2 separate regions of the Homo sapiens genome follow, and region 2 is linked to region 1. Evidence: fine-mapped expression QTL. A gene starts in region 1. The other region holds a variant in brackets. All regions are shown on one strand. Distances are between the middles of the regions. Region 1 holds the start of GNB2 (G protein subunit beta 2). Region 2 overlaps ZAN (zonadhesin).

Region 1 (4,253 bases):
AAAAGCCGATTGGGCGCTAATAGGTTCTGGACGGCTCACCCCGGATAATCCCCGGTCCGGCTGCGCCCCATTAGCCGTCCGCCGCGGGTGGGGGTGACAGCGGCGGGGAAGGCAGCCCCGAGCCGCTGCTCCCTCCAGCGCAGGGACCGCCCGCCCCGCCGCGCCCGCAGAAAGCCCGTGGGAGCCGCTCTCGAGTAATTACGGCTCCGCAACGAGGTCCCCGGCCCCGAGGCGCGGAGGTGCTCTCTCCCAGGCGCGGGCGGGCGGCCCCAGGCGGCCTGGCCGCGGCGCCCTGGACACCCGGGGGGCCCAGCCCGCAGGCTCGGCGCCCGGGCCCCAGGGGCCCGGCTGGCTCCGCTCCGGGAGCCTGAGTCCTTCCCCGCCCGCGGGACACCTGTGCGATCCGGCCGTACACACTGCACTTGGCCGGCCCAGGCGTCCCCCACCCAGCTCCCACTTCCCCCAGGCGCAGGGCGTTCCTCTTCCCCACTGACATTTCCCCTCCTTGTAAGTTCAGCTTTCTACGCCAGTGCCAAGGGGTGACCCTCAAAATCGGGGGATGGGGGGTGCGGGCAGAACTCCTTACTCTACCCAACCCCCAGGCCCGCACAAAGCCTCTTCCACCTACTAGCAGCCCAGGCCTGGCGGCACCGCCGGAGGCCCAGGGCAGAAGGAAGCACGGCTGGAGGAAGAAACTGGGGGCGGGGGCGACGTTCTCAGCCCTCGGTCCCCATCACCCCCCAGGGCCCTCAGCAGCCCCCAGACTCTAGGGATATAGCAGCCGGCGCTCCATAGAGAAATGAGGGTGCAACCGCCTCCGCAGGTCTGGCGGGGCTCAGGAGAGTGACGGGAGGGTCCCTGGATCTGGCAGCTGGAAGGCGCGGGCTGGTGCGGCGCTGCGAAGCGCAGTGGGCCTGGCCCTCCAGCCCCTACGACCTCCATTTTGCCTAAAAGAAAGCTGGGCGGGGGGCGGGCGCCTGGGAGCTGGGCTTGGGGTGAGGATCTGTAAAGGGAATAGGGCGCCGAGGGCTCCAGTTTCGGCGAGTGGGGCCAGAAACCACGGGCAGCACCCAAATCGTGGGTAGGGTGGAGACGAAAGGAAGGGTGGCGCGCGGCCTTGCCTGCTTCTCCCCGATTTTGGAGTTGTGCAAGGCGAGGGCCGGCAGGGGTGCGACAGTGGAGGACACGAGGGGTGCTCCCCGGGGGCAGGCGGGAGGGTGGCGGTGGGGAAAGGGGGCGGGGCGGGGCCTAGAGGAAGCCCGGAATTTAGCCCCCCAACTTCCGAGGGAGCAAGAGGCAGTCGGGGCTGGGCTGGGGTCTGGGGTCGGGCAAAAACTTCGCTGATGGTGCGGGGAAGCGCACGCACGGTGGGGGGCGAGGGTTCCCCAGTTCCCCTTCCGGGTTTGGGAGCGACCGGGCAAGAGGGGAAGGGAGCGGAGGTCTGGGGAGTTACGTCCGCTCCCAGGAGGCCAGCCCCGGGAGACCGAAGGAAGAGAGGTTCCCCTGGGGGAAATTGGGGCTGGGGGGCGAGAGGACTCCTTTTGCCAGCGAAGGTACCTGTGGCGGTGGGACTCTGCGGCGGAGGTCGCTGGCGGTGCGCGGGCGGCGCTGTCTTCCTCCGCGGCGGAGGCGGCGGCGGCGGCGGCGGCGGCGGCGGCGGCGGCGCGGATGGATTTCCTCAGTGGCCCCAGCCCCGCCGCCAGCGCTGCCTCCCCAGAGCGGAGGGATCCCGCCCGCCAGTGACGCGGCTGCCGCCGCCGCGCCCAGGACCCGGCTGGGCGAGACCAACTGCCTCGCACTTGGGGGAAGCCAGGAGACAAAACCCCACCGAGGGAGCAAAGACGGGCCCAGTCGCTCCCAAGGTTCTCACCCTACGCTTTGTGGACGCAAACCGTACTCAAAGGGTTTGCTTCACGGAAAGGAGTAAGACATCCCCCCTCTGGGACTGGAGGAGGTGGTACTGGCATATGAGGAGGGTGAGACCGCTCGCTGGTCACGTGATCAGCCTCCCGCCCCGCCTGGAATGGGTGGCTCCAGACTGGGAAGGGGAGTTCGACGCCCCAGTTCCCGGTTGGGCCACGCCCCGGCCCTGAGGAGGCCACGCCCCTCACCAGGGGGCGGAGCTAAAGAGACCTGGACGGGGCCGGCCTCGAGGCTGCTGGAAGAAGAAGCGCGATTCCGAGAAAGTCCCCGAGCGGGAGTGGGTAGGGGCTGATGCGGGCGCCCCGGGAATGCCATGAGAAGGGTCGTGTCCAGGCATTTCCTCAGCCTCGCCCACTGGGCCTTTGTAGACCCCCTTTCAGGGCTTGCCACTGAAATAACAACTCATTTATTGAGAGCCACACTTTTTTTTTTTGAGACGGAGTCTCTCTCTGTCGCCCAGGCTGGAGTGCTATCTCAACTCACTGCAACCTCCGCCGCCCGGGTGCAAGCGATTCTCCTGCCTCAGCCTCCTGAGTAGCTGGGACTACAGGCGTGTGCCACCACACCCGGCTAATTTTTTGTATTTTTAGTAGAGACGGGGTTTCACGGTGTTAGCCAGGATGGTCTCCATCTCCTGACCTCGTGATCTGCCTGTCTCGGCCTCCCAAAGTGCTGGGATTACAGGCGTGAGCCACCGCGCCTGGCCCGACACTTATTTTTTAATTGGAGTACAGTGACGCGATTGTAGGTCACTGCCACCTCAATCTCCTCGGCTCAAGTGATCTTCCTGCCTCAGCCTCCCTAGTACCTGGGACCACAGGCGTGCCCCAGCCACCATGCCCAGCTAATTTTTAAATTTTTGGTAGAGGTGGGGTCTTGCTATGCTGCCCAGGCTGACATATGTTAAGTCTCACAATACTGGGAAATTAAGTGCTAACATTCTCCCCATTTTCTTTTCTTTTCTTTTTTTTTTTTTTGGAGACAGGGTCTCACTCTGTCGCCCAGGCTGAAGTGCAGTGGCATGATCTCGGCTCACTGCAACCTCCGCCTCCTGGGTTCAGGCGATTCTCCTGCCTCAGCCTCTGGAGTAGGTGGGATTACAGGCGCCCGCCACCATGCCCAGCTAATTTTTTTTTGTATTTTTAGTAGAGACGAGGTTTCACCATGTCGGCCAGGCTGGTCTCAAACTCCTGACCTCAGGTGATGTGCCCGTCTCGGCCTCCCAAAGTGCTGGGATTACAGGCGTGAGCCACCGCGCCCAGCCTTCTCCCCATTTTCTAATAGTGGAAAGAGACCTGAGGCTGCAGAGTTTAGATATGAACCCAGGCAGCCAAAACTTTACTGTACATTCCAGTTTATCTGTATGAGCCTCTAGATGAACCCCTTCCTCCAGGGACCTTGCCTGTAAAGGGACAAGAACGTAGGTCTAGGCCTCAGTTTCCACATCTGTTAAATGGGGATGTTGACAGCATCTGCCCTCCAAGTCCCGGATTCTTACTGAGAACCCCATCGATTGTGGAAATGCTTTGGGAAGTTCAAGGCAACGAATAGCCTTCACTGAGTCCTTGTAATTTGAAAGTATCAAAACACGCAGCCATAAGAAAGAACGAGATGGGGCTCACGCCTGTAATCCTAGCACTGTGAGAGGCCGAGGCGGGTGGATCACTTGAGGTCAGGAGTTTGAGACAAGCCTGGCCAATATGGTGAAACCCCGTCTCTGCTAAAAATACAAACATTAGCTGGGCGTGGTGGCACACACCTGTAATCCCAGCTACTCAGGAGGCTGAGGCAGGAGAATTGCTTGAACCCGGGAGGCGGAGGTTGCAGTGAGCCAAAATCACACCACTCACTGCACTCCGGCCTGGGCAACAGAGCAAGACTTTGACTCAAGAAGAAGAAAGAAAGACAAAAGAAGAAAAAGTAAAAGAAAGAAAAGGAGGGAAGGAAGGGAAGGAAAGAAAAAAAGAAAGGAAAGAGAAAGGAAGAGAGAAAAAAGAAGAAATCATGTCCTTTGCAGCAACATGGATGCAGAAAAGAGAGAGAGAGAGAAAGAGAAAGAAAAGAGAGAAGGAAGGAAGGGAAAGAAAGAAAGAAGAAACAAAAGAAAAGAAAAGAAGAAGAAATCGTGTCCTTTGCAGTAACATGGATGCAGCTAGAGGCTTTTATCCTAAGTGGATAAATTTCTGCAGGAACAGAAAACCAAACACTGCATGTTCTCACTTATAAGTAGGAGCTAAACACTGGGTACTCATGAACATAAAGATGGGAACAATAGACACGGGGGATTACTAGAGGGGGGAAGGGTTGAAAAACTACCTATTGGGTACTGT
Region 2 (4,504 bases), 120 kb before region 1:
TGGCCAAACTGGTCTAGAATTCCTGACCTCAAGTGATCTGCCTACCTCGGCCTCTCAGAGTGCTGGGATTACAGGCATGAGCCACCGCGCCTAGCCCTCACTCTTTTTTTTAATTAACTTTTTTTTTTTTTTTTTGAGATGGAGTCTCGCTCCGTTGCCCAGGCTGGAGTGCAGCGGTGTGATCTCCGCTCACTGCAAGCTCCGCCTCCCAGGTTCACTCCATTCTCCTGCCTCAGCCTCACGAGTAGCTGGGACTATAGGTGCCCGCCAACACACCTGGCTAATTTTTAGTATTTTCAGTAGAGACAGGGTCTCACCGTGTTAGCCAGGATGGTCTCGATCTCCTGACCTCGTGATCTGCCTGCCTCGGCCTCCCAAAGTGCTGGGATTACAGGTGTGAGCCACCGTGCCCAGCCTTAATTAACTTTTTTTTAAAGCAGGGTCTTGCTCTGTTGCCCAGTCTGGAGTACAGTGGCTCAATCATGGCTCACTGCAGCCTCCAACTTCTGGGCTCAAGCGATCCTCTCTCCTCGGCCTTTCCAGTAGCTGGGATTACAGGTGTGCACCACCACATCCAGCTAATTTTTTATTTTTATTTTTTATAGAGATGGGATCTTGCTATGTTGCCCAGGCTGGTCTCGAATGCCTGGCCTCAAGCGATCCTCCCGTCTCAGCCTCTCCAGTTCCAGAAGCTGGGATTACAGGCATGCACCATCACACCTGTCTCATTTAAAAAAAAAAAATTTTTTTTGAGATGGAGTTTTGCTCTTGTCACCCAGGCTGGAGTGCAGTGGCACGATCTCAGCTCACTGCAACCTCCGCCTCCCACGTTCAAGCGATTCTCCTGCCTCAGCATCCCAAGTAGCTGGGATTACAGGCGCCCACCACCACACCCAGCTAATTTTTGTATTTTTAGTAGAGATGGGGTTTCGCCATGTTTGCCAGGCTGGTCTTGAACTCCTGACCTTAGGTGATCCACCTGCCTCAGCCTCCCAAAGTGCTGGGATTACAGGCGTGAGCCACTGTGCACGGCCTTTAAAATTTTTTTTGTAGAGACGGGGGTCTCACTATGTTCCCCAGGCTGGTCTTGAGCTTCTGACCTCAAGCGATCCTCCCACCTCAGCTTCCCGGAGCGCTGGGATTTCTGGCCAGTGCCACAGCACCCAGCCAAGACTCTGCCCTCTGCTCTCCACCTGGTCTCACCTCACCTCCTCCTGGTCCTCCTCTGAAGCTGGGTGCCCCACTACCGGGCCGAGTCTGCTCACCAGGATTTGCCTGTCTTAAATAGGATTTTCCCTCCCACTTCCCAGAAATGGCCCTTTTGCTCTTCTTTCCCCTCTCTCCATTACCTGCATTTTTCCTTCCACCAAAGCTGACGACCAGCTCAAAGTCGGTGACCAGGTAGAGCCGTTGGCCCCACAGGGTGACCCGCAGGTGTTCATTTGGCCTGTAGGGGACGGCCATCTTCTGGTTGTTGACCTAAAGAGGGAAGACAGGAGCCACAGACAGGGCTGAATCCTCCTGACCTGCTGCCATTTCCTGGCTGGGCTTCACTTTTCCCAGTCATCTCCATATGTCTCCGTGCAGAGAGTGGAATAAGATACCCCA[A/G]TGGGCTTTGCTATTCACGTGGCAGAAACCTCTGTGAGGTCCGCCCCCTTCCCAGCCCAAGTCCTTCCTTGCAAAAAATTGGCTCAGTGAGGCCGGGCACAGTGGCTCACACCTGTAATTCTAGCACTTTGGGAGGCCGAGTCGGGCGGATCACTTGAGGTCAGGAGTTCCAGACCAGCCTGGCCAACATGGGGAAACCACGTCTCTACTAAAAATACAAAAATTAGCCAGACATGGTGGTGCACACCTGTAGTCCCAGCTACTAGGGAGGTTGAGGCAGGATAATCACTTGAACCTGGGAGGTGGAGGTTGCAGTGAGCCTAGATGGTGCCACTGCACTCCAGCCTGGGCGACAGAGTGAAACTCTGCCTCAAAAAATAAAAATACATTGGTGTAGTGGATGCCATTGGTTCTTCAGCCCAGGATTGACCTTCACACACCTCACGCTCTGTCCTCCTCCTCTCTTCCTCTTGTTTCTTGCCAGCCTCTGCTGCCTCCCCACATGAAGTGAGCTTGTTGCTGAATTTGTTTTTGATTTTGAGACAGTTTCTCTCTGTCACCCAGGCTAAAGTGCAGTGGCAAGATCTTGGCTCACTGCAGCCTCAAACTCCTGGGCTCAAGTGATCCTCCAGCCTAAGCCTGCCCAATAGCTGGAACTACAGGTGTGCGCCCCCATATCCAGCTCATTTTAAATTTTTTGCAGAGATGTTGCGTCTTGCTATGTTGCCCAGGCTGGTCTTGAACTCCTGGGCTCAAGTGATCCTCCCGTCTTAGCCTCCTGAGTAGCTGAGATTACAGGCGTGAACCACTGCGTCCTGCTGACTCTGATTTTACAACCAGCCCACCCCTGCCACAAACATCCCAGGGAACAGGGATCCCTGACTTCTACTCCAGGTGGCCTACCTGGTCCAGCTGCCTCCCCACACCCACCAGGCCCTGGCCCAGCTCTTACCACAAGCTCCAGACCAGCTTGGAGCTGCACTTTATAGCCGTAGACGGTGGTAATCACTTCCTGCAAGAAGATGGAGCTCCTGGGCGGATCCATCTTGTTGCGTCCTTCCACGAGGAGGGGCTCCACCCCCTCAGGCAGTACGTCCACAGTCTTGATCAGAACATAGGTCATGCGGCCTTGCAAGCGGTAGCTGAAGCCGTCAAATGTGAGGTAACGGGGGTCGCCATAGACTGAGCATTGTTCAGACTCTGCCAAGAAGTCAGACAGTGAGAAGGGGCCGGGCGCAGTGGCTCACGCCTGTAATCCCAGGACTTTGGGAGGCCAAGGCGGGTGGATGACCTGAGGTCAGGAGTTTGAGACCAGCCTGGCCAACATGGTGAAACCCTGTCTCTACTAAAAATACAAAAATTAGCCAGGTGTGGTGGTGCGTGCCTGTAATCCCAGCTACTTGGTAGGCTGAGGCAAGAGAATTGCTTGAACCCGGGAGGCAGAGGTTGTAGTGAGCGCCGAGATCGCGCCACTGCACTCCAGCCTGGGAGACAGAGTAAGACACCATCTCAAAAAAACAAAAAACAAAACAAAAGACTGAGAAGGGACCCTGCCCAGGTGTGACAGTCCCCAGAGTCCCTCCCCCACGGTGGCATCCCCTGTGGCCACCCTCTTAGGCTCAGGCTCCCTGGATCCTTTCTTTTCTTTTTTTAATTTTCTTTTTCTTTTTTTGAGACAGGGTCTTATTCTGTCACCCAGACTGGAGTACAAGTGGTACGATCATAGCTCACTGCAGCCTCCACCTCCTGGTCTCGAGTGATCCTCCTGAGTAGCTGGGACTTTAGGTGCGCACCACCACCCCTAGCTAATTTTTTTCTTTTTTTTTTAGAAATGGCCACACTACATTGCCCAGGCTGGTCTTGAACTCCTGGCCTCAAGAAATCCTCCCACCTTGGCCTCCCAAAGTCCAAAGTGCTGAGATTACAGGCATAAGCCACCAAGCCCGGTACCTAGACTTTTTTTTTTCAATACCTACTGACATTCAATTAGAGGCCCTTTATTATTATTTTTATTTTTTTATTTTTTTGAGACAAGATCTCACTCTGTGTCCCAGGCTGGAGTGCAGTGGTACAATCATAGCTCACTGCAGCCTCAAACTCCTGAGCTCAAGCAATTCTCCTGCGTCAGTCTCCTGAGTAGCTGGGACTACAGGCACAAGCCACTACACCTAACTAATTTTTTAAAATTTTAAAATTTTTTGTAGGGACAGGGTCTTCCTATGTTGGCCAGGTTGGTGTTAAATTCCTGGGCTGAAGTGATTCTTCCACCTCTGCCTCCCAAGTACTGGGATTACAGGCATGAACCACCATGCCCAGCCTCCCTGGATCCTTGATCTTCAATTTTCTCTATCTCCTGGCCTGATTAAAAACCTTAGAGGGGGCGGGCACAGTGGCTCATGCCTGTAATCCCAACACTTTAGGAGGCTGAGGCAGGAGGAACACATGAGCCCATGAGTTCAAGCCCATCTTGGGCAACATAGCAAGACCCCATCTCTAGAAAAAAAATAGCAAAATTGGCTGGGTGTGGTGGTCCATGCCTGTAGTCCCAGCTACTTGGGAGGCTGAGATGTGAGGATCACATGATTGCAGGCATTTGAGGTTGCAGCTAGCTATATGATGGTGCCAGTGCACTCCAGCCTGGGCAACAGAGCAAGACCCTATCTCAAAAAACAAACAAACAAGAAAAGAAAAACTTTGGAGGATCTCCTTGACCAGTCCCCTCTTTTTGCCCTGCAGGTGGAGGGTCCCAGAGGGGATCAGGACCTGGCACATGGCCACAGAGTTAGCAAGAGCTAAACTGGAGGCCAGGCCTCCTGATCCAGTCGCCCGCCCCAACCCCTGACTGTGCTGGGGTTCAGGCTAAGCCCCTTCCCACCCTGCCTCTTCCTCCACCTCC

The links. PIP is the estimated chance that this variant, and not a neighbour inherited with it, causes the effect. A credible set is the group of variants that fine-mapping cannot tell apart.
Region 2: its variant is the best candidate, but not a certain one, in a credible set for the expression of GNB2 in whole blood (TOPMed, PIP 0.59).

The regions. Positions count from the first base shown.
Region 1 is chr7:100,671,228-100,675,480 of GRCh38, reverse strand. It overlaps GNB2 (G protein subunit beta 2), which reads right to left and starts at 1,741. Exons shown (of 10, transcript NM_005273.4): 1 at 1,558-1,741. RefSeq lists enhancers at 642-721, 922-1,131 and silencers at 1,562-1,741, 1,992-2,071, 2,082-2,211.
Region 2 is chr7:100,786,193-100,790,696 of GRCh38, reverse strand. It overlaps ZAN (zonadhesin), which reads right to left. Exons shown (of 48, transcript NM_003386.3): 38 at 2,561-2,808; 39 at 1,350-1,479. Among named protein-coding and RNA genes, the nearest start is that of EPHB4, 39 kb to the left of the region's middle. The variant A/G (reference allele first, on the strand shown) is at 1,609.